7 linked regions of the Homo sapiens genome follow. The protein of the gene in region 1 interacts with the protein of each later gene in a pairwise test. Each region holds a gene or a part of one and is shown on either strand. Other genes may lie near its edges. The genes, in order: JPH3, DES, EED, ZC2HC1C, MYNN, SPRED1 and CKMT1A.

Region 1 (4,514 bases):
GTAGAATCCCACAGGATTTGTCCCTTCCAGCCTGGCTTATTCCACTGCATGACGGCCTCAAGGCTCATCCAGGAAGCAGCAGGTGCCCGGCTTTCCTTCCTTTTTAAGGCTGAGGAATATTCCACTGCATGGGGGGACCACGTCATTTTATCCCCGATGCCTTCACTTTTCAGCTCTTGTTCCCATCTGTATCTGTAAGCTGGAGCATCCCTTGATGGAGGAGGGATCTCAGGGAGTGGGTGAGCCTCTCCTCTTTCCAGGGTCATCCTCCACTTTGCGGGGGCAGCCCACCTTCCTGGAGTTCCAGCTGAGGGGGGGCCCAATTTAACAAGCACTTTGGGAGGTTGAGGTGGGCGGATCATGAGGTCCAGAGATTGAGACCATCCTGGCCAACATGGTGAAACCCTGTCTCTACTAAAAACAGAAAAAAATTAGCTGGGTGTGGTGGTGCATGCCTGTAGTCCCAGCTACTCAGGAGGCTGAGGCAGGAGAATCGATTGAACCTGGGAGGCAAAGGTTACAGTGAGCTGAGATCGCGCTACTGCACTCTAGCCTGGCGACAGAGCAAGACTCCATCTCAAAAAAAAAAGGGTTGTCCGGTTACCTGTGCATGCCAGGTAATCGACAAATGCTTTTTATTTTTATTTATGTATTTGTTTAGAGACAGAGTCTTGCTCTGTCGCCCAGGCTGGAGTGCAGTGGCATGATCTGTGCTCACTGTAACCTCCACCTCCCAGGTTCAAGTGATCCTCCTGCCTCAGCCTCTTGAGTACCTGGGATTACAGGCACCCATCACCATGCCTAGCTAGTTTTTTTGTATTTTTAGTAGAGACAGGATTTCACTATGTTGGCCAGCGTGGTCTCTAACTCCTGACTTCAGGTGATCTGCTCGCCTCGGCCTCCCAAAGTGCTGGGATTACAAGCATGAGCCACCCCACCCAGCCAACAAACGCTTTTTAAATATAAGTATGTCCCATGCAGCGTGTCCCCTAAAGAACGATGTGTTGTTCATCTGAAACTCAGATGTTACCAGGCGTCCTGTGTTTGATGTGACAACCCTGTCCACAGCCCTGGCACGGAAGGGGCAGTCGCTGAGGGTGCAGTCTTGGGGTGAGGGTCCCTGTGATGGCAGCCTGTGTCCAGCTTGGACTGGCCATGGGAAGGCCACTGTGTGGGCGGGTCTGGCCTTGGTAAAGGGCCACCCCCTGAGACCCACCGAGCCTAGTTCCAGTTTCCTCCTCACAACCCCAGCCTGGAAGGGCGTTCGGGTGTGGAGCAAGCCACAGGGTTTCCCCCCAGTGTGGTTCGCATTGGGGTGCCGGGTGGTTCCGAGTCAGCTGCCCCCTCTGCCTCCTCCCCGTGCCCATCACAACTGCCCCCAGTGCTGGGACCTCTGGGCAAGAGGCTGAGGCTGACACTCTGGAAAGGTGTGCAGTGGTGTTGTGGGGTCCCTGGGGTCCGGTCCACATACATCCCTGCTTGCCCGGCTCTTGGCATCCTGTAGGAGAAGGTGCCACAGCCTAGTGGGTGGGAGGGCAGGAGCCCCATCACTGGAGTCGGAGGTTGCTTTTGATGTTGATGGCAGTGAGGTTGCTTCTGATGTTGATGGCAGTGAGGTTGTTTCCGACGTTGATGGCAGTGGACTTGCCTCCAGGTTAGCTGCCTCCCCAAGCAGCTTTGGGGGTACAGAATGACCGACCAGTGTGGGATCCCAAACATCCTATCCCCTTGCCTGAAAGTGGGACGAGGCTGAAGCTGACCTCTCGCTGAGACCACCTCATTCGGCCCCGTCCTCTGCTGCCACGTCCTTCTTCCTGGTACCCCCCTTCTCCAGCCCCAAATAAGTCACGTTCACAGGATCCCCAGCTCAGGCTCTGCTCCTGGAGAAGCTGCCCTCAGAGGCTGCGTTGCCGATTCCTTTTTCAACGGAGAGGCTGCAGCGTGTGGCAGGTGCCACCATCTCTTGGAGTGAGGCAGCCTCAGGGGCTCTGTCCGGGGCTGCAGCCTGATTGGTGATCTTTGCACGCCCCTTCTCTGCCCTGGCTGGGCCATATGCCACATGGGGCGTGAGGGGCCTGCAACACAAGTCCCTCTGGGGGCTCGTGATGTGGTTGAGCTGGAAGATACATTCTGGAACATCTAAGACCCCAGCCACTGTCCTGAGTCTGGATGCCGCGGGTGCCGGGCATGGGGGCTCTGGGCCCGGGCCCTGGGGTGCTTGGAGGTGCTGTGGAGGAGGGGTGGGGCTGGCTTGGAGCCCATGGGATTCGATTGGAGGGTGGGAGTGTGAGAGAGGAGAGAGCGTGAACAGAGCCTTGGACAGAAAAGCCTGGAAGGATCAGGACCCTTTGGGGGGTGGCGGGTGAAGGTGGCGGGGTGTGGGGATACCCTGGGGACGGACAGGTCACTTGAGGCTACAGGACTTTGAATTCCACACTTAGTTTGGATCCCACCCTCTGGTGTGGGGCGTGTGAGTGGAGGGGGCCTGGCTAGGGAAAGGGGGGGGGCAGTGGGGAGTGGAGGGCTGCTTCGCTCCGAGAGATGGCGGCACCTGCCACCCGCTGCAGCCTCTCCGTTTAAAAAGTGACTGGCAGAACAGGAGCAGCTGCTGCCAGCTCCTGTCCATTTTGTCCTCTGAAAAGAGAGGTCGGGGTGGCCAGGTCCTCATTTTTCAGGAGACAGAAGAGAGCTGAATTTTTATGTCAAATCTCTTGGTTTTGAGTTGTTAGCAGGTAATTCCAATGTTTTATGAAAACAGCGGTGGGACGAATAAAACCTACGTATCAGTAAGTCTCGGCCTCCAGGCCTCTGGTCTGCAGCCTGTGCCACCGTGAGTTGGAAGAGTGGTGGACGGACTCTGTTCTCCCCGCAAAAGCCCTTTCCAGGGTGGCACATCCACGCCGTTAGTGCCCGGCTGCAGGGAGAAGCTCAAATGACAAATGAGGCTTGAGGTTTGCCGCGTTGGGCGTCGTGCTGAGGCCCAGCCGTCCTCACGGTGACCTTTGGCATGAGGAGTCCTGGTTCCACTCTACAGACGAGGACACTGAGGGCCAGCGGGGCCCAGAAACTTCCCTGAGTCACAGCTCACAGAGCAAGACATGGGCCCAGGTCTGCTGACCGGGTTTCCTTTTTATTTTATTGTGGTAAGAGAAATACAGAATGTACCACGTTAGCTACTTTTAAGTATACAATTCAGTGGTATTAATTACCTTCACGGTGTTAGGTAGCTGTCATCACTGTTTACCTCCAAGGCTTTCCCATCATCCTACTGCAAAACTCTGTCCCTATTCAACACTGACCCCACAACCCTCCCCAGCCCCTGCACCCACCGCGCTTTCTGCATCTCTGAGCGTGACTACTCTAAGGACCCCGTGTACATGGAATCATCCGATATGTGGCCTTTTGTGCCCAGCTCAGTTCACTCTGTGTAATGTCTTCAGCGTTCATCCACATTGCAGCCTGTGTGAGAATGTTCTACCTTTTCAAGGCTGAATGATGTTCCATCGTATGGACGGACCGCATGGCGTCTGTCCATTTACCAGGTGATGGACTTGTGGGTTGCCTTTCCCTTTCCAGCCATGGAAACAGTGCTGCTGAGAACCCAGGTGCACAGGCAGCTGCTGCAGTCCCCACCCTCCCTTCTTCTGGGGATATCAGGTCTGCTGATTTTATGTCTGAAGGTCATGGGCCACTGTCCCTTCCCTATGCCCTTGAATCTCTTCCATGGTGTGTCCACTGTGTGGTCTTCCTGGATACCTCCAGCAATGGGGAGCTCACTGTCTCCCAGAGCAGCCCATTCAGGGCTTAGTGTGTAGCCCACACCTGTGTCCCTGTAGCTGCCACTCATTAGCCTCCTAACCCAGGACGCGTTTCCTTGTGCCCTTGGCAGGGGCTCCGTATTCACTCTGGGTTCTGTGGTCCTCACTCTGCACCACAGACTCTGATGCCTCCCTTCTCCCTCCCCGATTTCCAAGAGAGAACAAGATCTAGCCATGAGAAGCAGGATGGAGGTGTCTTCAAAAACAGCCACTGGTGATAGAAGTTGTAGGAAGGTACCATGGTCTGTCTGCCTCCACGCAAACCTCACCAGGTTTCATCAAGATAGCACACCAGGAGTGGTGTGGCTCATGACTGTAATCACAGCACTTCTGGAGGCTGAGGCAGGATCACTTGAGCCCATGAGTTAGAAACCAGCCTGGCCAACATAATGAGACTGCCATCTCTACAAATAATTTACAAAGTAGTGGAGCATGGTGGTGCACGCCTGTAGTCCCAGCTGCGCAGGAGGCTGAGGCAGGAGGATCGCCTGAGCCCAGGGGTTCCTGGCTGTCGTGAGCTGTGATGGTCTCACTGCACTCCAGCCTGGGCAACACAGCGAGAACCTGTCTCAAAAAACACAAAACAACAGGAAGCTCAGACAGGACTGTGGCTGCTTCAACCCTGTCCGTGGCCAGGCTGTGCCCCCTCCTCTGTCGCTGGGCACTCACCCCTCTCTCATTTTCTCCCCAGGGACC
Region 2 (3,786 bases), on another chromosome or scaffold:
CATGCTCCCTTGCTCATCCCTACCCGTGCCCTGCATCCTTCTCATTTTTGGGCCCCTTTCTCTGCCCTTAGGTGTCAGACCTGACCCAGGCAGCCAACAAGAACAACGACGCCCTGCGCCAGGCCAAGCAGGAGATGATGGAATACCGACACCAGATCCAGTCCTACACCTGCGAGATTGACGCCCTGAAGGGCACTGTGAGTCCCTGCCCACCTGGCCAGGCCCTGCCCCTTCCTGTCTGCAGTTCACACCCTCACTTTGTGACCTTGGGCCCATCATAGATCCTCTCTGGGCCTTCATCTACTTAAATCTACAATAGGGGTAAAACCAGACAAGTGGATTCCAGTTGGATGCTAAGGAATCAGGGGTTCCTGGGCATCTACCTATGTGGGGACTGTGAGGCTGAATGCAATGTTCCTTTGTATCTATTTTATTCTGAGTGTTCACATATAGACTTAATTTGAGTTCAGGGTTCAACATGGCCTGGACCTGACCATCTGGAGTTGCCTGCCAGCCCCAAAGCTTTCTTTGGGCTGCTAGTGTCCTCTTCCCTTCCTTGACCTGGGTTCCCCCTCTCCTGCAGAACGATTCCCTGATGAGGCAGATGCGGGAATTGGAGGACCGATTTGCCAGTGAGGCCAGTGGCTACCAGGACAACATTGCGCGCCTGGAGGAGGAAATCCGGCACCTCAAGGATGAGATGGCCCGCCATCTGCGCGAGTACCAGGACCTGCTCAACGTGAAGATGGCCCTGGATGTGGAGATTGCCACCTACCGGAAGCTGCTGGAGGGAGAGGAGAGCCGGTGAGGGGCCAGGCAGGAGCCCGAGTGGGAGGTGCGGGGTGCTGGGTGGTCCATTTCTGTCCCCAGGAGGCTCGAGATTACTGATTACCTCAACAAGACCTGGAAACAATTTTTTTTTTTTTTGAGATGGAGTTTCGCTCTTGTCGCCCAGTCTGGAGTGCAATGGCACCATCTTGGCTCACTGCAACCTCCGCCTCCTGGGTTCAAGCAATTCTCCTGCCTCAGCTTCCCGAGCAGCTGGGATTACAGGCGCCTACCACCACGCCTGGCTAATTTTTGTATTTTTAGTAGAGACGGGGTTTCACTATGTTGGGCAGCTGGTCTCGAACTCCTGACCTCAGGTGATCTGCCTACCTCAGCCTCCCAAAGTACTGGGATTACAGGCGTGAGCCACCGCACCCGGCGTGGAAACAATTTTATACAAGAGGCCACTGCTCTATTAATTGCAGAGAATTAACCAAGGCCACCTGGGTAAAAAGCAATTTAATTAACAGCATTTATAAAAAGAGAAATATAAGTATTCCCTTATCCACCTTCAGAATTAAGAACCAGCAGCAAAAAAAACCATATTCAGCAACCAATAATAAAATATTACTGCCAGTCAAGGGAGAGATGAAAGCAGAATGGGGAGTGATGAGGAGGGAAACGGAGGGAGCAGATAGAGGCAAATAGAGAGAGGGAGGGAGAGAAGCCTTGCACAGGGATAGGCTAAGAGAAGGTAAAGAGATGCATACAGAAGGCATGAGTTTGCACACACATGCACACATGTCAGCATATGCACATGTTCGGAGGAAAAGACACAGACGTCATGCTCAGAGCAACCCACCTCTAGACACAGAAAACAACATACAACTGGAAAGGGACACCAGGGAACCTTGTGGGATAACAGAAATGTTCTATATCTTTTTTTTTTTTTTTTTTTGAGACAGAGTCTTGCTCTGTCACCCAGGCTGGAGTGCAGTGGTGTGATCTCAGCTCACTGCAACCTCTGCCTCCCAGGCTCAAGCGGTTCTCCTGTCTCAGCCTCCCTAGTAGCTGGGATTACAGGCGTGTGCCAACACACTCAGCTGATTTTTTGTATTTTTAGTAGAGATGAGGTTTCACCATGTTGGTCAGGCTGGACTCTAACTCCTGACCTCAAGTAATTCGCCTGCCTCAGCCTCCCAAAGTGCTGGGATTATAGGCATGAGCCACTGTGCCTGGCCTAGAAATGTTCTATATCTTGATTTGGACTGGTAGTTACACAGACGTGGACATTGATCAAAACTCATTGAATTGTACATTAAAGATCTGTGCATTTCACTGTATGTAAATTTAACCTCAATTTAAAACAGATCAGTTACTCCAAAAACTGGTACCCCTTGATACTCATAAAAATAATATCTGAAATTTTTAAAAAGGAGCAGACATGTTTAGATACAGGTACAAACATAAAGAGAAACTTCAGATTTTGTAAAATCACGTCTACATATGATGGCCTTTGAAGGTAGCTAAAGGCATGTTGCATTTTCCCAGCATTAGGCCTAAATAGTAAGCTCTCAGAACTGGCCTGGCTGGAGGGTGGGCATGAGCAATGGATATCACCCACAGCTGCTACTAGTACCAACTTCAGTGCCAGGAGCAAGAAGGAAATCCTGGTGCTCTGGAGGGCGCGGTGGGGTTGCACATCCTAGTGTCGTGCCAGCAGTTCACAGTTGAAATAATGATCCTTCCAGAAGAGACTATTCCTGGGACAGCTCTAGCTGGCCTTCGACCCCATTCCTTGAGCAGTATGGGTGGTGGGAGTGCTGGGGTCCGTGGGACTGGGACAGCTGAGGATGGTGTTTAGAAAGGACCAGGGTGAGCCTTGATGGGCGGTCTCAGGGAAAGATGGGAGGGTTCTTTTTTTTTTTTTTTTGAGACAGGGTCTTGTTCTGTCCCCCAGGCTGGAGTGCAGTGGTGCAATCTCCGCTCACTGCAAGCTCCACCTCCTGGGTTCGCACCATTCTCCTGCCTCACCCTCCTGAGTATCTGGAACTACAGGTGCCCGCCACCATGCCCGGCTAATTTTTTGTATTTTTAGTAGAGACGGGGTTTCACTGTGTTAGCCAGGATGGTCTCGATCTCCTGACCTGGTGATCCGCCCGCCTCGGCCTTTCAAAGTGCTGGGATTACAGCTGGGCCCGGCCGATGGGAGGGTTCTTAACTCTTAGGAGGTTTTGTCTCTTCCCTTTTAGGATCAATCTCCCCATCCAGACCTACTCTGCCCTCAACTTCCGAGGTGAGTGTCTGCTGGCAGGCGGAGGCTGGAGTTGCAGGGGCCAGGAGTCCAGCATGGGCACTGCCCAAGGCCAGCCAGGAGGGAGGATGGGACCCTGGGGCTAGGGACAGACCTGGAGTCTGGGGAAGAAAAAGGGGACCACTGCGGGTAGGTGGGGGAGTTTAGGTAGAGGTGGATGAGGCAACTTATGACAGAGAGAGCTTTTTATGTGATTATATTGTATTGTATTTACCATGTCCCCTGCACCTTCTTGGAGTATTGGGCCTCAGGAAGCAGCCTCTGTTCTGAATCCCAAACTCTGAAAGCAGGAGTGTCCTTGGGGACCTGGCTTCAGGAGCATCTCATACCACCTGCCCTCTAAGACACCCACAGCCCATTGTCTGTTTGGCACATTGCCAAGCCCCACCTTGGCTGCTTGTCGAACACCTCCAGTTTGCTGGAGCAAGATGTTGGATGCACGTTTGGAAAAAAATGCCAAATCTTAGCAAAGCCAAACAATGAAAAGAACGAGCTCTTAGGGCACTCTGCCATTTTGACATTAGTAATACGCAGATCGGGTGGCTTTCCAACCCCAGAGAGCAGAGAAACACACGATAATGATGCATTAGGAAAGCAAGTCGGAGTCCTTGGCAGCTTCTCCTTTCCTAGATCAAACCTTTTCTATCTTCGATGTACATTTCCATCAGGAAAAAAAACACGCTGCGCTCCAGCGAGTCACAACA
Region 3 (4,514 bases), on another chromosome or scaffold:
ATACAGTTGTGAAGAACTTAGCAGGACTGTGTCCATGCCCTAGGACTTTGTGGAAGGCAGAAGTTAAGAGCAATGAATCCAATACCTGGCAGAAGAAATATCTGAGCATCAAAGCATTCACAGTGATGCATGGCTTCTTCTGGCTGCTTATCATAAAATGAGAAATGATCTAAAGGTGAAATTTGTAATTAAAAAGGAAAGCAAAACAGAAACATTTATAAACTCTCAGCCTGGCCATGTAAAGAAAAAAAAAGCAGGCTGGGTGTGGTGGCTCACACCTGTAATCCCAACACTTTCGAAGGCTGAGGTGGAAGGATCATTTGAGCCCAGAAGTTCAAGACCAGCCTGGGCAACATAGCAAGTCCTTGTCTCTTCAAAAAATATATAAAATAAAAAAGCATGTTTGAGAGAGAATATTAAGGATGTAGCTAAGTGACTAATTGCTAAGGAGATTAATAGGGAAGAGAAGGCAGGTTCTATTCACCAAGACAATGGGATAATGACCACAAAGGCATTTCAGAGATCTTCAAGACATAGCTAAGACCTTGAGGGCAAGGTTTCCAGAGTAGCACCCATGGGACCTCTACATTCACTGTCCAGGGCCACTTCAGCACTTTGCTCCCCCTATTCCAAGGCAGTGCTCTTTGGTCACCCCATAGCTTGAAGGGGCTCAAGTATGGCTCAGGCCATAGCTTCTGAAGGTACAAGCAGCAAATCTTGGCAGTGTCCATGTGGTGTTAAGTCTGCAGATGCAGAGAATGCAGGAACTGTGGAGGCACGGCTTCCTCTCTAGATTTCAAAAGACATCACAAAGAGCCTGGGGCTCCAGGCAGAAACTTTTCAGAAGGGCAGAGCCACACAGCAGTTCCTACTACAGCAACACCTGGTGGAGCCATGGGGAAAAAGCCATCCCCCAAATCCCAGAACTGCTGAGCTACCAGGGCACACCACCAGCCTGCAAGAGCTGCAGGCACCCGACTCCAACTCATAAGATGCTATGTGGGCTGCACGTGGCAAACCCATAAAGATGGGGCTGCCCAAGGCCTCTGGGGCCCAAACTCCACACCCAGCATGCCCAGAAGGCAAAACATGGAGCCAAGGAAGATTATTCTGGTGCCTTGGATTTAATCTTGTTTGTTCTGTTGAGTTTTGGATTTACTTGGGACCAGTTACCCTTATTCTTGCCTATCTCTCCTTTTTGGAAGGGACTGTCTATCCTATGCTTATCCTACCACTGTATTTTGAAAATAGATAAGATGCCTGATTTCCCAGACCCACAGATGGAGAATTTACCTCAGCAGGAATCCTGCCTTGAGTCTCACCCATATCTGATTGAGGATTTGAATTTTGGGGGCTAGAGGCAGAATGCTACAGCTTAAATGAACCCCCGAAAAAGCAGGTTGGGAAACTTAATCCCAATGCAGCAGTGTTGGGAGATGAGACCTAATGAGAAGCGTTAGGTCATGAGAGTACCACTCTTATGAATGAATTAATTCCAATTATATATTAAAAAAAAAAAAGGCTTCAAGTTCAATTTCTTGTTCTTACTTTCTAATGCCAGGTTAAAGTGGACTAAGACAGTAAGTTCAGAAATATTCATGTGGTCTGAAAAATATTTTAAGCATATTTATCTCAAATAACTTTCTTTAAATAACCTAATTTGATGGAAATATACTTTTGAAATAAAATACAGATTTGACATAAGCAATTTTATCCCACAGAACAAGATACTAGCTTTTCCCTTCACCATACTCACATTAAAAAATTGAAAGGGGACTGAGATTTATGATTTTTACAGTAAGCTGAAAACATAACTACATATATCATGCACAATTTTATAGAATGACAGTCCCTCTTCAAAAATTATGCAGCTATAATTTGAGCAATGTTATATTAAACATTAATAAAGAATGTACAGCAGTAGCTCACACCTGTAATCCCAGCACTTTGGGAGGCCAAGGTGTGAGGATCTTTTGAGGCCAGGAGTTTGAGACCAGGTTGGACAACATAATGAAACCGTATCTCTACAAAAAATTTTTAAAAATTAGCCAGGCATGGTGGTGTGCACATGTAGTCCCAGCTACTCAGAAGGATGAGGTGGGAACATTGCTTGAGGCCAGGAGCTCAAGCTACAGTGAGCTGTGATCACATCACTCTACTATAGCCTGGTTGACAGAGTGAGATCCTGTCTCTAAAACAGTATTTAAAAAAAAGAAAGAATGTAAAGCAAAGACACGTCATGTAAGCTTGAAATATAACAATGTTCATTCTGTCTGTGAATATAAATGCATCACATAAACACCCCAGAGGTAGTAATACATGTGAAAATTAACAGTGCTGTAAAAATGATTCCTTGATTTCAATTTTGTACAAGCTTTTGTATGGACATGTTATTTCTGTTGGGGATACATATGTACACCCCCACCCACACAACCCTAGGATATACATACATATGTAAACATCTAGGATTAGTGACTCTGTAACATTTTGAGGAACTGCCAGATTGTTTTTCAAAGTAGTTACATTTTACATTCCCACCAGCAGTGTCTGAGAGGGCTCTGATTTCTTCTTGTGCCAGTCAATACTTGTTAGTATCTAACGTTTTTATTACAGCCACCCTAAGTAGGTGTGAAGTGGTATTTCATTATGGTTTTGATTTGTATTTCCTTAATGATTAATATGTTAAACATCTTTTCATGTGCTCAGTGGCCATCTGTGTATGCTCTGTGAAGAAATGTCATTCAGAACTTTTGGCCATTTTTAAATTGGGCTGTCTTTTTATTGTTGAGCTATAAAAATTCTTGATACACGTCCCTTATTAGCTGGGAATCATGGCTCATGCCTGTAATCCCAGCAGTTTAGGAGGCCAAGGTAGGAGGACTGCTTGAGGCCAGGAGTTTGAGGACCAGTCTAGGTAACACAGGGAGACCTCATCTCTACAAAAACATTTTTTACAAAATTAGCCAGGTATGGCGGCACGTGCCTGTAGTCCTAACTACTTGGTAGGTTGAGGCTACAGTGAGCCATGATCACACCACTGCACTCAACCTGGGTGACTGGGCAAGACCCTGTCTCCAAAAACAAAAAATAAAAATCAAAGTCCTTTATCAGAATGATTTATAAATATTTTTTCTCCTTTTGAGTAGGCTTTTTTACTTTCTTGATAGTATCACTTGGAGCAAAATTCTTATTCATGCTCAAACTTCTGATTTTTAAAAATGCTCTTACTGACACAATAGAGGAAGACCAGGGTTAAAAGTTGTGATGTTGGGCTGTGCGCAGTGGCTCACGCCTATAATCCCAGCACTTTGGGAGGCCGATGCGGGTGGACCACCTGAGGTCAGGAGTTTGAGACCAGCCTGGCCAACATGGAGAAACCTCATCTCTACTAAAAATAAAAAAAATTAGCCAGGCATGGTGGAGGGCGCCTGTAATCCCAGCTACTCGGGAGGGTCAGGCAGGAGAATCACCTGAACCCAGGAGGCAGAGGTTGCAGTGAGCCGAGATAGAGCCATTGCACTCCAGCCTGGGCGCCAAAGCAAGACTCTGTCTCAAAAATAAATAAATAAATAAATAAATAGAGGCAGGACGCAGTGGCTCACACCTGTAATCTCAGCACTTTAGGAGGCTGAGACAGGCGGATCAACTGAGGTCAGGAGTTCAAGACCAGCCTGACCCATGTGGAGAAACCGTATCTCTACTAAAAATACAAAAATTAGCCGGGCATGGTGGTACATGCCTGTAATCCCAGCTACTCGAGAGGCTGAGGCAGGAGAATCTCTTAAACCCGGGAGGCAGAGGTTGCAGTCAGCCGAGATTGCACCATTGCGCTCCAGCCTCCGCAACAAGAGCGAAACTTTGTCTCAAAAAAAAAAAAAAAAACCAAAAAACAAAGAAAAGAGAAAAAAAAAGTTGTAATATTTAGAACAAGTGAGGCATTACGGTCTATACAGTTGTTCAGAAATATCTGAGCCCCAATTAGTGTTATCAAGAGACAAGAAAAAGTAATCAACTCTTCCTAGAGGTAGTGATTTCCAAAATGCAATGCTTTCCCTTTATGGGAATATTTCAAATAACTTATCCTGAAAAACGTAGCATTTTTAAGAAATTCTATAGGAAATCCTTTATAAAACAAAAGCTTTTTTAAAAAATAAAAAAGCAATATGAATTTTCATATGTAGTATTTATTATTACATGATTGGACAAAATGATTTGGATATGCTAACATAGCCTGGGATTTTCCTACTAAAATGTACTGTTATAACCTTTTTTTTAATTTGGCTTTATTTCCTTAGAACACTATCTGTCCATACACTGGGGCCTACTGGAGGGTAGAGGGTGGGAGGAGTAAGAAGATCAGGAAAAATAACTAACAGATACTAGACTTAAAATAAAACAGGACCTGTCAACCTAAGTAACAGAGAGGCTCTCTAAAATAAAAGATGTTTATATGGAAATAATGCACTGCAATGAGAATGTACATGCCAAAGTAAACTATGTGTGTTCTCCGAGAC
Region 4 (4,514 bases), on another chromosome or scaffold:
AAGAGTTGCAGAAGGAACAGAGAAAGCACGAGGAGAAAATTATTGTTGTTTTGTTTTGTTTTGTTTTTGTTGTTGTTGTTATTTGAGATGGAGTCTTGCTTTGTCACCCAGGCTGGAGTGCAGTGGCGCAATCTTGGTTGACTGCAACGTCAGCCTCCTAGATTCAAGCGATTCTCCTATCTCAGCCTCCCAAGTAGCTGAGACTACAGGCGTGCGCCACCACGCCCGGCTAATTTTTGTATTTTTAGTAGAGATGGGGTTTCACCATATTGGTCAGGCTGGTCTTGAACACATGAGATCAGGTGATCCACCTGCCTCAGCCTCCCAAAGTACTGGGATTATAGGCGTGAGCCACAGCACCTGGTGAGGAGAAAATTATTAAGGAAATAATACAATTAACATTCCTAGAATTAAAGGTCACACATTTTGAGATTGAAATGGCTTACCAAGTATCTAGCACAATTATTGTAAAGTTTCAGAATTTCAAAATAAATAGAGAATCCCGTAGCCTTTTAAAAAAAAAGGTTTCTTGTAATGGAACAGGAATCAAAATGGCATTAGATTTCACAACAATACACTGGATGCTAAAAGCTAGTGGGAAATACTTTAAAAGTTCTAACAGATAATCATTTTCCTCCTAGAATTCTGTACCTAGCCAAATCATCAAATGGGAGCCTGTCATATAGATAGTGTCATTCATTCCAAGACAATATACCTGCTATGCACCCTTCTTAGTAAGCTTCAGCAAAGGAAGGAGTAATGCAAGAAAAAGGAAGACACAGGATGCTGGAAACAGAGGACCCAACAAAGAAGAGAAGCAAAGAGAAGTTCCAAGAGAATGAGTTTGCACCAGGCCTAGAGAATACCCAGTCCAGGTTGGAGCAGAAGGGATCAGAGTGGCTGAAGGGAGGTTTTCAGAATTAAAAAATCAAACTGATAGATTATGAGAGGTGTTTGAGCATTACAAAAACGTTAACAGATGTCTGATATCAGATGGATCGTTGCGGGGGAGAAAAAGACAGGTATGTAGAAAATGAAGGAAATGAAAACATACGTCCATTATTAATTTTAGGTACATGTGGGCAGAGACAGAATTTGTTCACTCATTAATGAACAAAATTTACTTGATCATTACAATGTGAAAGCTAACTACTTTTAACCAAAAATTGTGATTCGACTACAGTGGAAGGATAAGAGAAAGAGAACAGTAGGAGAGAGGGAATATGAAAGAGAACTTCACTCCCAGCTTCCATAAGAAGTTACCAGGTAGAACAGGCACCGTGGCTCACGCCTGTAATCCCAGCACTCTGGGAGGCCGAGGTGGGCAGATGACTTGAGGTTAGGAGTTCAGGACCAACTTGGCCAACTTGGTGAAACCCTGTCTTAACTAAAAATACAAAAATTAGCCGGGCGTGGTGGCACTCGCCTGTAAGCCCAGCTACTCAGGAGGCTGAGGCACAATAATTGCTTGAACACGGGAGGTGAAGGTTGCAGTAAGCCAAGATCAAGCCACTGCACTCCAGCCTGGGCGACAGAGACTCCGTCTCAAAAAAAACAAAACAAAACAAAAAAAAACAGGTAATGTAGAAAATTGATAAATCAAGAAAATAAGCATATTATTTGGAAATATGGAAAGGCAGACCAGAAGAACCATCTAACAGAACTGAAGGCTGCCTCCGGGGGCTGAATTAGGGGTTCCATTATAGGTCATTCAGTACTACATGTTTTTTAAATGCATGCAAACACTATTAAATTTTTTAAAGAGAAAAAAGACAACTAGCTCTTGGTGATCTGGCATTGTTAATGATGAATAATAGGAAGAGATACTATCAAAGGAAAAGAAAGGATCCTTCCAGAAAGTCTCTTGCCAAAACAGACAAGAAGGCAAGAGAGTATTAGCGATGGTATCCAGGAACCTTTAAAAGAATTCGAAGACCAGGCACGGTGGCTCATGCATGTAATCCCAACATTTTGGGAGGCTGAGGCGTGTGGATCACAAGGTCAGGAGTTCAAGACCAGCCTGGGCAAGATGGTGAAACCCCGTCTCTACTAAACATACAAAAATTAGCTGGGTGTGGTGGCGGGCACCTGTAATCCCAGCTACTCAGGAGACTGAGGCAGAGAATTGCTTGAACCCGGTAGGTGGAGGCTGCAGTGAGCCAAGATCGCTGCAGTGAGCCGAGATCGCGTCACTGCACTCCAGCCTGGGCAACAGGGCGAGACTCGGTCTCAAAAAAAGAATTTGATCAGGGGAAAGTTCCTCTCAAAGAATTTGATCAGGGGAAAGTTCCTCAAGTATATGAGATCCTTTAGTAATTTACTTCTTATACTCTAATTCCTATAATTTTATTCCTCATTGTACTGAAATTCTATTCAGTTAACACTTATTAAGCACAAAGCACAAAATATGTTCCCTGTCCTCAAAAATGCTTACAGTCCAGGAGAGAGACAGGGTGTACGTCTGCTGGGAGTTACGTGAAGATTAAAGGATACCAGGAAAATCACCTGTTCTTGAGTACTCTAGAGGAATGACAGGAAGGTACAACCACTCAGCTTCCAAAGGCACAGCACTGTGGAATAAGATTTGAGACATTACCAGGGTGGTGCAGGTGCATCTTAGTCTAGGTCCCTTCTGTCTTGGTGTCCTCAATGTCACACATTCCCACAAACTAGTTGCCATAAAGCTGGAGCATCTGATCTCAGGAACCTAATTATTTTGCTTCACCGTAACTGTATTTACGAATTTAAGAAACACAAGATTCTTTTAGGCTCTGGCCAAAAATAAATCGCTACAGTGGGACATAGAGTGAATTCCCAGTGGATTACTGGGTTGAACTGAAAGAAAACAGGAAAAAACAGTAAGTGGTGATCATATTATTATCTGCAAGAGCAAAATGCTGATTTCTTCTTTGGAAACTAGATTTCAGGGAGATGATCTCTGAACATGGATGGGACTTCCTTGTGATTTCTCCAAACTACTAAAAGAAAGAACTCTAATTGTAAACAATTTCTTCTAACAACCATCATATAAATGTGAGTTTTTAAAGGCTCCAGCAAATACACAGAAACTGTAAAGTGCCAATGGACAAGAGGTGCCAGCACAGCGGAGGGAGGGTTGGGAAGAAATGAAAACAGAATGACACTCTCTTATTCTTCTGGAATATTAGAACTAGATGGGGCCTCTGAGATCATATGATCTACGCTTTCCCAAACTTCAATCATCTGCACTTTCACTTCATCCTTACAACTAATTAATATTTTTCTGTAAATTCATGATCCCTGGAAATCAGGGGCTTAATATATTGTTATATTTTCCTAATATAACACTAAACGACGAATCAATTTTTCTAATACAACACTAAACACTAAAACTACTAAAATAAAGTTTGTCAGCATGCCACACCTTGAGAAATAACCATTTTATAAACCAAGTGGCACAACCTTGACATGTCATTCATTTATGAGACAATCTTCTCCAGATATGTCCAAATGTGCCTATGAAGTTCACCTAAATTTATCATGTAAGTGTCACGAAACCCTTACTTTTTCCAACCTGGTTTTTCTAAAGTGAGAAATAATTGGCAAGGGCATGGTTTGTAAGATAACCAGAAAGAAAGTCCTTTTTACCTTCAAGGTGTTTACATTCTAAATGGGCAGAAAAAGAATTCCAAACTTAATTGTGTTTCATCTATTTACTAAGAAGCTATGTTAACACTGAGCTAACCTTAAAAGAGTGAATAGTTAAAGGAATGGTCACAGATCCTAGTCTTGGGAAGTGGCAGAATACATTGCAAAGAGTGAGGAGTTCTCTCCAGGTGACAAAAGGCTGCATTTTTTTCTTTAGATTTTTTGTGTCTTTTAAATTTTCTACAGTAAACTTTTATTACTTTTATAATCCAAAGGACACAAATTCTATGTCTAGATTTTTTAGTCATTCCAACCAAGATTTATATGCCGACTCTGCCACTTAAAGCTGTTTGTGACCTCAAGCAAGTTACTTAGCCTGTCCAAGTCTTGATTTTTGAACTGATACAATGAGAGATAATGTGGAGATCACATGAAAAGCTCCCGTCACAATGCTGGCATACAGTAGTAATCAAGAAATGTTAATTCTAGACGTCAATTCTTCCTACATGACACATGAATTTTCCCTAAAGAAAACTGATGATGACAAAACAGACCCCTACAATGATCACCACACCAAGTCACATCCATAAGGCTCTTGTTACCTTGGCTGAAGCTGGCCCCTTCCAGTTCAAGTACTGCTCTAGTTCTGTGCCCTTAGCCCGGGCCCTGGAGGAGTCAAACACTTTCCTCTTGGAACCCCGCATCCTGCTGCAGATGTTGGAGTGTCTCTCCAGCCTGAACGAGAGGAATTTGCGCCCACAGTGGCTGCACTCACCCAGCTGTGGCTCTTCAATGGAGCCGCTGGAACCTGAGGAGTCTGGTGCCATGGACAGGCTGGAATTTCTGGCGGATCCCTGCAAAGCACCGACTGGTGTTTCTGAAGGCGG
Region 5 (4,424 bases), on another chromosome or scaffold:
TTGAAACTGTCTTTGACAAGATAAAAACACCAAATATCTACTTAAAATTCATTTTGAAAATACAATCTCAGATAACTCAAACCAAAAGTGCTGACCATTGGTTTTCTCCAGAATACTCAGTTCTAAATGAACAAAAATTTATATGCACTTTTCTAGATTTTGAGAAACATTTTTGTTTCATTAGAAAAGTTATTTCTAACAATATATTAATAGAGAAATAGCACAATTCTTATTCAGCGCCTAAATTTTTACGAGCGAAAATATGAAATTTTATTTTTATGCATAGTTTATGTATTGATCCATGGGGCTTACAAATAGCAACACACTCTTGGGCTGATACTATCGTGGATTTTGCTTAAATTATGAGGGCAGGAAAATTTTAAAATCCCACAGGTCACAACTGAATCACATTAACTGGCTGATTTAGTAAATGAAGGGCAATTCTAAAATGCAAAATAAAAATGGAATTAAGGCAGCTTTAAAAGAAAATAAAACTCATCCACCCAAAATAGTGCTACATAATTCATTACTTAAAAAGCTCTCTGTGGAGTATAGACATAAAGCCAAAAATAAAAACAAACATTGCAGTTGTGATGCAGCATCAGGTGCTTTTACTTCAGTGAATGAAAAATAATGGTCACAACTCAAATGAATGGGAATTTAATATGAATATATGCACCTTACCAGAGATGTTTGCTACCAATGATATCTTAGCAATTCCATATTCCTTACAAAGTCAGTATAATTGTTGTAAAAAAATCAACTGTGGTTCTGAATACCCATTCACAGTTGACCTCAACAATGTATCTGATGTAGGAGACTGAGTATCCGTGACAGGCAGAAGCATGTGATGGTCCTCAGTCCCAAGTGGAAGAGCTAATGGTAAAGTCATATCAGAAGGCTTCACATCCATAGTTTCTGATAAAGGACTTTTTTGTATGGAATCCTGTTCACTCAAAGTATGATCCTCTGCACTGGAGTCTAGAGTTTTATCTGCACCTAGAATGGAAGGAAAAAAAAATCTACATTATCTTTAAAACAAAACTAAACCCCTGAGGTAGACTAATGTACTTACCATTCCCAGAAATTACATTCCAACCACCATACCTTTACTCAAGCGGTTTCTCTTTTGTACATATGCCCTCCTCACTATCTATGTAAATTCAATCTGGGCCTCAAGGTTAAGTTCAAGCACCAACTCCATTTAAAAAAATGGACTTGATTAAGAATGAAACAGGGTGAGCTGTTATATCGGCTTAATCACACATTTGTCAATTTTCATATACTGCCTTGTGGCATCTATCTCTCTTATTGCCATTTAACATTCTACTCAGGTATGCCTTGAATCCTCAACCAGACTGTAAATTCTTTGAGAGTAAATGTCGTTATACTTCTTTAACTCCCTCAAAATATTAAACAGTGATAAGAAATACTCTTTTCATTCACTGAATGTTTTTAATAAGTTGTTCATATTATTCTGTGAGTTCAGAACAGTATGTATGGCACTTTCATATATTTTCAGAGGTGAGAAATTCTGCTCTACTCAAGGGAGCAATCAGCACACTGACTAAAGATGTACTTTTGCCTTCAAATTTTCCAATGGCTTTAACATGCTTCCGTTACTCTAAAGTGTTGACATGATTTTGGTTTCACCGTCCTTGTCACGCAGACAAAACTGCTTTCGTAAAATTGTAATTATCTGTATTCTTCCCAAACTACTCTTCACTTCAACTAGCTAAGGTTTCCTTCTTGTCCCACTGACTCTCTACAGTGTTCTCTGCCCGGAATGAATCCTCTCTTCCCATCTCCATCTTTGAACTCTTCTCCATCCTTCAAGTTAAAATTAAGTTTTTTTTAGTACTTACCTCAGAAAAACATAGTATCTTCTTTAGCACTTTTGTGTCGATTATGCCCTACATTTTCCCTATTTATTTAGTTTATTTAATTATTTATTTAGGTTTCTGGTCTCGCACACCAGGTTGTAAGTGCTTTGAGTACCAGAACTATGCCTTGTTTAACTTCATATTCCCTGAAAGTACACTTTACAGAAATTTAACAAGTGGTTAAATTAATGACTTACTGCAGTTTTTAGATGTTTCTAACTTAATACTTACGATGTTTAAGTATTTACACACCAGAAGGGCCTAGTGTCATGTCGAATAATGACGGAATAAAATGGTAAGCACAGGGAAACTTTTTCAAGAATTCACTTTAACCAATAGACTCAAAACTTGTTGTTTGGCTTTCCATTTTTATATATTATAACAATGTAGGGCTACCTGTTTCCCTATTTCCTCTTAAACATTTCTGGACTAGTGTTCATGATAACACCACCCCCCCCCCCTTTTTTTTCATAATAACCATAGTAAACCCTGAGTTATCCAGACTCCAGTATGGGAAACAGTGACACATAGCTTGCTTATATGTTCCTTCATGCTTGGGACTGTTATTAAGTCAGGTTTTCAAAGGAGGAAATGTTTCAAGTTTTTTTTTTTTTTTTTTAAATAAGAGATTCAATATGAAAAATCCAGAGTGAATGTTTCTGCAAAAAAGCTACTTTCCTCACATGTATATACCTAGTTTTTGAAATAGACATCTAATTTAAACTGCTTAAATGTAAATCTCATCTCAGCATTTTAAGGAATAGCACTAATATGAGCACCAAATTAAAACAAACAAACAAGCAAACAAAACACAAGCATTTACCAGAATGGACTTTTGTTTTGTGCTTCTTTAAATTTTTAATATCTGTGTAAGAATTTCCACATAATTCGCAGATAAATGGTCTTTCTCCTGAAAAACAAATTAGAAGTTTAAATTTCAATATTTTAAAAGCTGCTAGCTAAGACAAAAATATCAATGTTTATGAACACAAGGCAAAAATTATTATAGTGTTTAAATTTGGTTTCAAATTGTCACTTTAATCACCTGGTTATAATATAGTGAAATGAAAGATTCTATACAACCTAGACACTCCTTTATACAAAAAATCTGTATCTCAAGAAAACTTGAGCATTTTCATAAACAGAAATGTATCTGCAAACTAAAACAAACAAAAGCCTACTCTTGTATTTCTATGAAACATTTAGTGAGTGTCAGTTATATGCCAGACACTGGCTAAGAGATACAGCTGGGAGAAAATAAGTGTAATAATCATGGTTTCTGCTCTCAGGTACCTGGCAAATTAGAAAATCCTTAAAAATACTGACAGCATGCTACAATATTACACTTCTTTGGAAATAACTGTTCAGTGCTTTATGGTGTAAACTAAAGCGCGTCAGAATATAAAGTCACCAAAAACTTACTAAATCTCTATTAAGTACTCACATTATTCTAGGTAGGAATTATGAGAAGGAATTTTTAAAAAGAGAATGTCAGAACAGTACTCTTTCAAAGTGGCATTTTCCTTTGTTTTAAAATTTTTTACATTCAATATTTTCTTTATACAATTTACAAACTACTTTTTACAATAAGCATGTCAAAATTAAAATTTGTTCCTAAAAATTGCATACTAAACACTGTTTAGTAAGAAAATCTGATGTTATCTTGGTATTACCTATTCCTTTTCATTTCTTGGTATATCTGTGCAATTTAATCCAAATCATTTAAAAACTATTGATTATCTGGCATATTTCTTGGAAAACCAACACAATTCTTTAACAAATTTAATTCATACTCCAAACAACTAAAAAAAAAACAAAATAAGCAAATAAGTTGATATTTATACATTAAGATATTGCTATAGGTACAGTATGACTAAATACCATATAGTCCATAATGGCTTAAAAGTCAAGGTTTACATAAAAAGAAATTAAGAGAGAACAAAAAATAATACGTTCTCCCTAAACACAGACCTGTATGGGACCGAAAGTGTTTGTTGAGCTCTCCTGAGGAAATAAAACTTTTCCCACAAATACCACATATGTATGGTTTTTCACCTAGATGGAAAATAAAAGATAGCGAAGTGGTGTACTATACCAATATAATATTTATCAATTACAAATAATCTAAAGTAAGCTTTTCTGGAATATTATTTAAATTAAAATCTCTCTATATTGTACTTTAGAGGTATTTTCAGTGATCCAAGTAAATGAATATTAGTAATTATTGTATACTGTTCATAAGTTTTCATATATTAAAACTTTATTCCTCAAAATGTCCCTTCTAATAGAGATGATTTGGGCAAGGAATTTGATTTTTATATGATTAAGAACATGTCAATTCATAAACCCACATTTCTATTCTTGCTATCTACTATATTAATAAAGGAGAATAAAAGTATGTAGGGAAGTCTTTTAAAAAATGTACCCTAAAAAAGCAATTTGTTTCCAAACTGCTATTTTGCATCTGAATTACCTTATTTGAAAATCCCAGAATATCTGTGTAGGAAAGGTCCTAAGAAGTTTAAAAATCCATGTTCAACC
Region 6 (4,514 bases), on another chromosome or scaffold:
TTGATATTTGAAACACCGATGGCAATCTTCAGTGAGAGGATTGCTTTAAATATTTTTTTTTCATCTAAATGTACTTAGTATGGGACAACTTGGAAATTATCTCACTCACCCAGACTTTTAAAATCGTTTTTTCACAAATTTATCCTGCTTTATTAATAAATTATTCCCTAGGAGCTTTGTAATACTTTTTAAGTTTGGGCAGGGCGATAATAATATTTAGCATAATATTTTGGTAAACTCTTCATGGGAACAAAATCTTGGGGGTTTTACTTTAAAAAACTCTATTATATTAGAAAATAATGTGTTCATCTGATAATCAGTTTTACTAGAGCCAGCATTGTTTGCTTGTGCATTAGATAAACCACAGAGTGAACTTATTTGGAATGTAGCTTTTAATATAGTAATTTATGTCTCATCTTTAATAGGTGAACCGTTTTGAAATGGAAATTTATTATTTATAGTCATTATGAAGAAAGATACGTATCATGGCAGAAGCCATTAAGGCCTTAGCACAGTTTAAAACTGCCCTGTAACATGGATTTTATTTGGGCCTTACATTTTTTTCCCTTTTCTCTTTTTTAAAGCCATTGCTCATAGGGATTTAATTACAGTAGGGACTATTTTTAACATTCTTTAGTTTCTTTTTCACCTGATTTCAACCTTCAAGAAAAGTGAAAATCACCAGTTTCCTGGGAAACCATTAACCCTTTCTAGATAGCCATTGTGGTAAAATCCAGTAGGGCCTCATTCTGAAATCCTCGAGTACATGCTTATTATTTGAAATTAAAGTTTTATGTAGAGAAATGGATAACTCCTAGGCTGACTGTGAGAATATATTTAATCAAGAATTAGTGGGGGATCTGTTATGTGTAGGGCTTTGCTTTAATGCCAAACCAAGTAAGGAAGAAATAAATTAGAATAAAGCATTTCTTAGATTGTTTCACATTTATGTTTAAAAATCTTACTTTTCAAAAATAGTAAACATACTCTAGAGCAAAAGAATTTGTGTTATAAATAGTAGAGGAAATAGCCACATACATGTTTGTTTTGTAGGTAATTTGCACAGAGACTGTTTAATACTCCAGTCAAATGTTTCCGATAGATATAACTGTACCATATTTTACATTATTGAATTAGCCTTCTAAATAGAGTTTTAAACATTTAAAGGCATATTATATAATACTTAAGAGTCTTTGTCCTTTGGTATTGAGTGTATATAGCACTGCATGTCCTTTTGTCAATTTGGCCAAAACATTTGGAGAAGTGAAGTAGCTGAAATAATAAGCATTTGGCTTATTAGGTTCACGTTAGCCAGAAACACTTCCTGTGTCAGTATTAGGCTTTCTAATAGCAAGTTGGGATTATATTAGATTTTGGAATTAGGTTAACTAGAATTAGACCATGTATGATAAACGTACTATGTTGTAATCTGAGTTTGAACTGTTTTTCCGTAAATAGAAAGCAAATTTTTATGGTTATATCATTTAGTGCCTCATAAAAAATATACCCAGTGGTGAGTTATTTTTGATAAGTGTAAATAAACATATGTTCACCCCATACATTTTACGTATGTATATGTATGTACACACACACACATATATATATATATAAAATTGGAAAACATTCTAGAAATAAATGGAAGCACTGGAAAGCTGTGTAATATTAAGCCATCTAATGTTTGTTTATATAGATGTGGTGTATACATAATATAAAAATTTGCTTATTATTCAGTTGGCCTGTGTAAAAATCAGCTAAATGACTGCATACTTGCTTCAACTTAATTTCCCTCTGCTTTCTCACTTAAAACTTTATGATCCTGAATTATATATTTTAAACACATTATGATACCATACCTAGAATTCCTCTCCTTACAAACTTTTGTAAATTTGTCATTTTTCCCCAAAAGACCTTCTCTCTTCCCCTCTTTCAACACTCTGTCCCTCTATGTTGCCTCTGTACTTCGTACATATGTATATTAGTTTTAAAATCATATAATATTGTGATTATTTACTTATTTCTATGACCGCTATTCTGTAATTCCCTACTTTTGTTTGTATGCCTAGCACAGTGCTTGATGGCAAATGCTCTACAAATGTGGTTGAATTAATGGAGCCTCATTACCTCATTTTTTTGTTTTCTCTGAATTTATGCATTTGAGATCATTAGCTGTATTAGAAAAAAAGGCCGAAAAAGAGTATGGGAAAAGTAAATTATTACCCGTTTAAGAAGGCTTACCTTTTTTTTTAAGAAAAGACAAAAATTGGCCTCATTTTTGACATGTTTTGTTTCTGCAAGTTTGAGAAATAACTTAGATCAGGCTTAAAAACTGTCCTAAAGTGCTGTTGGGATGTTTGGATGTGCTTGGCCTCTGAGTTATGTGGTGTATCTGAAGACCCGTGTTATATCCACAAGAAGGTAGACATTTGTGTGTCTGTCTTTTTTGGCATAGGAAGCTCAAAATTTAGGAATATGTATCTCCAGCTGTTTATCAGTTTTAAGTCTTTAAATTGCTCTCCCTTTCCCCCATGGTTCCACATTAGTGCCAAGGGTGAGGAACTGACTAGGGATAAAGAAGTGAAATTGATCAGGAAAGGGTAAACAGCAGCAGATTCCGTGATTTTATACTGCAGCTGTTGGTGACTGAGAACTGCCTAAGGGGAAAGTGTAACAATTTAGCCTTTTCTCTGGTGTTGTATAACTTGAACTTGACTAGTCTTACCCAGTTTGGGGAAATGATTGGTAAAGACAAGCCTGCTTTTCTTCTCCATCTTTCAGTAGGAACAGGAACGACATTAAAAATGCCAATTTAAAAAATGCTTCACCCCATGTAAGAGTAGTAGTTTATTTCAGATAATGTACAAAATGATCTCTAAAGTGAGTAATAATTTATTTGCAATTCTGCCATTAAATAACAGCTGCTAAAATTTTGGTCTACATGGAAACCTTTCTTATGATGTTGGTGATGAAACATATTCATTTATTAGATTTTTACTGTATGCCAAGCACTGTTATAAATGCTTTATGAAAGCATTATGTAGTTTATATATATACATGTGTTTCTTCTCAGTGGAATGGAATTGCACAGTGGGTACAATTGTAGCTTAATGTGAATATTTTCTTAAGTCGTTAAATATTCTAGAATATAATTTTTAGTGGCTACATTATGTTCAGTGTATGATATACATTAGTTGTAATCAGTCTCCTATTGTTGGATATTTTAGTTATTTTTAAACAATGTTGCATACCATCCTGAGTTCTGTCTCCATCCAGATCTCTTACTTTTCCCTTGAGATAGTCTAAGAATGGAGTTAAAAGAGAGGAAAATATTTAATTTTATTCTTTCTGTTAAATTGCCCTCTAGAAAAGAAGTATTTAGTATATGAGAGTGCTTAAACTTTGAAATGTCTGTACAGTTGTCTGAATTTTTCTTTGCCAATTTTGAAGGTAGAAAATGAAGTCTTATTTTTTAAATGCTTTATGGTAAAATAAAATTGATTTAAAAACTTATTAGGTTGTTTTGCGGTAACTAGAATGTTTTTAAATGCTATATTATAAATAGAATTTAAGTGCTCATGTAAAAGCCATTTGTACATCATTTATTTAACTCTTACCATCTTCTGTGCAGTATGGTATAGTCTAAAGAACACTGGACTTGAAATTGGGAGATGGATTTCTTTTGTAGCTATTTTTAATTTATTCTCTAATCCTGGGCTCTGTAGGCCTCAGTTTGCTGATTTATAAATTAAAGAATTTGGACTAAGCATCATATGTGCCCTTCCTTTGTTGATGGTGTATGATTTAGACTTTGTTAATTTTATTATATTGTTATTTTTGACATACTTAAACAAAAGACTTAAGAGTAGAAGTGGTAGGAAGATTAGGTAAAAGCATGCATTTTGAACAATTAAGATACAAAATTTGGAAACAATTGGTATATTAATAGTCTTTTAAGACTTACTTTGGGCTTAATAGCCATGTATCTTTGATGACACAAAATTTTGTACTACTCAATTTTGTTTTTTATGTATTTATTTATTTTAAAGAGGCAGGGTCTTGCAGTGTTGTCCAGGCTGGAGGGCAGTACAGTGGTATGATCATAGCTCACTGCAGCCTTGAACTCCTGGGTTCAAGTGATCTCCCACCTGTGCCTCTTAAGTAGCTAGGACGACAGGTGTGCCACCACACCTGGCTAATTTTAAAATTTTTTGTGGTGATCGGGTCCTGCCCAGGCTGGTCTCAAATTCCTTGGCTCAAGTGATCCTCTTGCCTTGGCCTCCCAAAGGGCTGGGATTACTGGCATGAGCCACCATGCACAGCCCTCATTTTAAAAAAGAGAAAAAAAGTATGGCCTCCATCTGTGGATGAATAAGTAAACAAAGGCTATTGGGCTTAAACACCAACTTGATTAGTTCTACAAGGAATATGCTAACAAGATACCAGTCTTTATGCTTTACTTACAGAAGTAAGTTTTTTACTAGGTCACTTATACAAATCAGTAATGTAACACTAGGGGA
Region 7 (3,878 bases), on another chromosome or scaffold:
GAGCCAGGGCCCAATGGGGACTACATGCATGCACTGATTCCTACCCCTGCCCTCAGGTGGTGTTTAGTCCCATCCAACTATCTAGTCTCGCCAGTGCTCAGGCTGTGGCTGTCACTCCTGAGCAAATGGCCTTTCTGAGTCCTGAGCAGCGACGAGCAGTTGCATGGGCCCAACATGAGGGAAAGGAGAGCCCAGAACAGCAAGGTGAGTTCCCAGCTGCACAGCTTGATCCTCCATCTCCTGACCCAGAATCAAACCCCTAATTTGGTGCTGTCTGGCTCTTAGAGTGCACCCAGGGAGATCCCTGGAGTGAAGGAGTCTACAGGCAGAGCGCTAATTTCCAAGTATCAATGCTCCTGGAGAGCTGAGTTGTGATATTACTCCCATTCCCTGTCTATTATAGGTCGAAGTACAGCCTGGGGCCTCCAGGACTGGTCACGACCTTCCTGGTCCCTGGTATTGACTATCAGCTTCCTTGGCCACCTGCTATGAGCCTGTCTCTACAGTAGAAGGAGATTGTGGGGAGAGAAATCTTAAGTCATAATGAATAAAGTGCAAACAGAAGTGCATCCTGATTATTTTCAGAAGCTGATGAGGAATATGGGTAAAATGTTAATGCTTTCCACCCACCTGAGAATCAGTGTTCCTGGGTTGCCATATCTGGAGTCTCTTTCCATCATAAATAATCCCACTGCCTCTTTTCATTTCCTGAAGGCTGCTCCCTCCTCACCCCACCATTAGAAGTAACACAGACAGCTGCAGCATAGCAAGGAGTCTTTACTAGGATGGAGGCAGGGGATGCGAGGGCAGGTCCAGAGCAAGTAGAATGGGCCATCATTAGAATGAGCAGAACTCCTTGGAATCTTGAGTCATCAGCTGGCGATGGGGAGTTAATGCTTGGTGTGGATGACAGGTGTGGGGATGCGGATATCCTGGCCTCTCTCCAGACGCCGTTCACAATCAATCAAATAGTTTACTCCATCGATGACCAGTTGCACCAGCTCCACCTGAAGGACACTAATCTTTGATCTCTGCTTCCTACAGTCTGAGTTTTTCTTTATCACTGACTGACTTGCCTGCTCATTTCCAATTGCCTCCCCACTCAACCTGAATTTCATTTCAGATTATGTTACATCCCGGAGGCTCACTCACTGCCATATTTCAGCCCCCACAGACCTATACCTCTCCTCATCCTAATCCCTTAGGATCTCACCTCTGATTTGCCTAGTCGGTCCAAATTAGAAATATCAAAGACACCGCCTGTGGCAGCAGTGTCCACTCCTCCAGTACCACGCTTTTGGAGTCTTAGGTTCTCCAGGATCTTTGGGAAGCGGCTATCCTAGAGAGGAGATAGGGATTGGGAGCAGGGTCAATAGAGGCAGAGACTAGTCCTACCTGAAAGAGCCCTGAACCTGCTCAGAGCTCTGTCTCCTGAACTTTTTTTTTTCCTTTTTTCTTTTTTTTTTTTTTTAGACAGGGTCTCTCTCTGTCACCCAGGCTGGAGTGATCACAGCTCACTGAAGCCTCGACTTCCCAGGCTTAAGTGATCCTCTCACCTCAGCCTCCACTACACCCAGCTAACTTTTGTATTTGTAGTAGAGATGGGGTTTCACCAGGTTGCCCAGGCTGGTCTTGAACTCCTGGGCTCAAATGATCTGCCTGCCTTGGCCTCCCAAGTGTTGGGATTAGAGGCATGAGCCACTGTGCCTGGCCTGTCCTCTGACCCTTTAGCCACAACATGTTTGGCTCCTCTCCAAAGGGTCCACTCCCTCCCCATCCACAACCCACCCTTCCTTACTCACACCCCTCTGTAACCCCACAACTCCTTTACTTTGCTTAGCAGGGGCAGTTTGATGTGCACTCCTGCCCGAAGTCCAGTGCCCAGGTTAGATGGACAGGTCAAGATGTATCCCAAACGCTCATTCCACATGAACTCCCAGCCACGTTCTTGGATAAGTCTCTCCACCTGAGTCCACAAAGTTTTTATTAATGAAAAATCAGGGATATTTCATTAACCCTGGACCCTCCCTTAGCTAGACCCACAAGAACACTAGAAATTTGTCTAGAATAGAAACTTGGCTGTGAATGAATGACATTGGTCTTTTTTTAAATGAAAAAGGTTTGTTATTGTTTTCATGCATGCATGATGCAAAATTATGATGTGCATAATAATGAGATTGTGAAAAAATATCTTATGTGGAAGAAGAAAACTCGAAGGCGTGGTGTATTAAGGATGATCTAGGGAAATGAACAGAGGTGGTAAACTGAACTGAGAGAGGACTGATTATTCAATGAGGTCTGCATGCATCGATTATCTTTGCTTTGCTAATGAGCCTAGAGCTTGGAAGGGTCCTTTCAGACAGAAGATGAAGGTGTAAGCTTTGCCAGGAAGAGGTGAGATAACGTTCTATTAGCTGTGAACGGAGCACCTGTGTGAATGCAGAGAAAGATGAAAACAGAGCAGGAAAGCCAGATTCATAGGAATAGGGGACAGGGGGAAGGCATTTTGCTTCCATTAACCATGTAGTCATGAAGATGACTATTAGAGTTCAAGAGACAAGGGATCTAGCAGAGTGATGATCACAAAGACCACTATCCAACATGAGTAAAGGGATCCTGTTTGTAGTTCAGAAGGAACCATGCCACCAGGGATATCTTATGTGCTGAACATGGGGGGAAACTCTTCCATCCAGAATAATATTGCAGCTAACACTTTAACACTTATTAAGCACTTACTGTGGACCAAGTACTTTACCTGTATTTCACTTAATCCCCACAACAACCTAAAATGTAGAAAATCTCATTATCCCAATTTTACAGATGAGGAAACTGAGGCATATAATTTAAAGGTACTTCCCTACCCACTCATAGTCAGAATATGTTATCTATTACTTGCCAAAAATAGTAGAAACTTCTCAGAATCTAAAAGAGGAGCTCTTTTTCTTTGCAAACCTAAAATAGAACTGTATGTTTGAGAACATACAGTAAGAATTGAATTGAGTTTATGGGGATTTCTAATGTAGACTTGAATACGGAGACCCAATCCATGTAGGATTGATGATTCAGTTCAACCTCTCATCTAGAGCCACATATTCTAGAACTCGAACCATTCTATCCTCCACCTTCCCCAGTCTCCCTCTGAACTCTCAACTTAAAGCCTAGACCCGATACTTTAACAAGAATGATAGAATCCAGAGTCAAGGCCTACCTTGTCTCAGAACTGGGTGGTTATATTAGAGTCATGAACACAGCAACCTCTCCCCGCCAACATCAATCTAAGCTCGAATGTTTTCCTTATCTGCACACCTCACCATCCCACTGCACACATCCCAGGCACTGACGTGCCATCTCAGTTATTCCTTCTTTGCATTACCTGCCTTCTTCACTTTCTAAGGTTCCTGACACTCTTTTCCTAATCTTAGTGTGACCACATGTCCTGGTTTTCCCAGTATGGTCCCAGCTGGTTTATACCTTTAGTCCTAGAGTGAGTCCTAGGTAGTCCTTTTTACCATCAGACATGTCTTGGGTTGGTTGATAAATTACATAATCTATTTATGCTACTCTTTGGTTTTCCTTATGTCCTCCCACCTAGCTCCCCTACACAATCTTCTCTAACCTCTTTGAGGCCTCGGCAGAATCTTTCAAACACTCTCTTCATGTTACCACCCTTCTCCATGGAGATCACCCGTGTATGATCCTCCTCATTCACCCAGATCAGGAAGCTCTTCTCATTGTTGTGCCTGAGGGCCGGAGAGGGACAGTGATCAAGAGGCAAGGCAAGAATTGGGAGAGATAGAGGGAAAAAAAGCATTTATGAGGGCATGAAGACAAAAGAGGTAATGAGCAGCTTCATACCAAATTCCACGAGCATCTGGCCA

The links.
Region 2: the proteins of JPH3 (region 1) and DES interact in binary tests that used the Homo sapiens proteins (3 or more experiments, as listed by UniProt).
Region 3: the proteins of JPH3 (region 1) and EED interact in binary tests that used the Homo sapiens proteins (3 or more experiments, as listed by UniProt).
Region 4: the proteins of JPH3 (region 1) and ZC2HC1C interact in binary tests that used the Homo sapiens proteins (3 or more experiments, as listed by UniProt).
Region 5: the proteins of JPH3 (region 1) and MYNN interact in binary tests that used the Homo sapiens proteins (3 or more experiments, as listed by UniProt).
Region 6: the proteins of JPH3 (region 1) and SPRED1 interact in binary tests that used the Homo sapiens proteins (3 or more experiments, as listed by UniProt).
Region 7: the proteins of JPH3 (region 1) and CKMT1A interact in binary tests that used the Homo sapiens proteins (3 or more experiments, as listed by UniProt).

The regions. Positions count from the first base shown.
Region 1 is NC_000016.10:87,639,749-87,644,262, forward strand, and holds part of JPH3 (junctophilin-3), read left to right. Parts: intron 1-4,509; coding exon 4,510-4,514. UniProt on the Homo sapiens protein: Junctophilins contribute to the formation of junctional membrane complexes (JMCs) which link the plasma membrane with the endoplasmic or sarcoplasmic reticulum in excitable cells.
Region 2 is NC_000002.12:219,420,757-219,424,542, forward strand, and holds part of DES (desmin), read left to right. Parts: intron 1-71; coding exon 72-197; intron 198-583; coding exon 584-804; intron 805-3,020; coding exon 3,021-3,064; intron 3,065-3,786. UniProt on the Homo sapiens protein: Muscle-specific type III intermediate filament essential for proper muscular structure and function.
Region 3 is NC_000011.10:86,257,924-86,262,437, reverse strand, and holds part of EED (polycomb protein EED), read right to left. Parts: intron 1-4,514. UniProt on the Homo sapiens protein: Polycomb group (PcG) protein. Component of the PRC2/EED-EZH2 complex, which methylates 'Lys-9' and 'Lys-27' of histone H3, leading to transcriptional repression of the affected target gene.
Region 4 is NC_000014.9:75,071,627-75,076,140, reverse strand, and holds part of ZC2HC1C (zinc finger C2HC domain-containing protein 1C), read right to left. Parts: coding exon 4,230-4,514; intron 1-4,229.
Region 5 is NC_000003.12:169,782,991-169,787,414, reverse strand, and holds part of MYNN (myoneurin), read right to left. Parts: intron 3,939-4,424; coding exon 3,855-3,938; intron 2,794-3,854; coding exon 2,707-2,793; intron 1,000-2,706; coding exon 737-999; 3' UTR 1-736.
Region 6 is NC_000015.10:38,255,228-38,259,741, forward strand, and holds part of SPRED1 (sprouty-related, EVH1 domain-containing protein 1), read left to right. Parts: intron 1-4,514. UniProt on the Homo sapiens protein: Tyrosine kinase substrate that inhibits growth-factor-mediated activation of MAP kinase. Negatively regulates hematopoiesis of bone marrow.
Region 7 is NC_000015.10:43,696,102-43,699,979, reverse strand, and holds the end of CKMT1A (creatine kinase U-type, mitochondrial isoform 1 precursor), read right to left. Parts: coding exon 3,856-3,878; exon of another isoform or gene 3,852-3,855; intron 3,741-3,851; coding exon 3,617-3,740; intron 1,967-3,616; coding exon 1,832-1,966; intron 1,340-1,831; coding exon 1,214-1,339; intron 1,008-1,213; coding exon 891-1,007; 3' UTR 758-890; downstream 1-757. UniProt on the Homo sapiens protein: Reversibly catalyzes the transfer of phosphate between ATP and various phosphogens (e.g. creatine phosphate).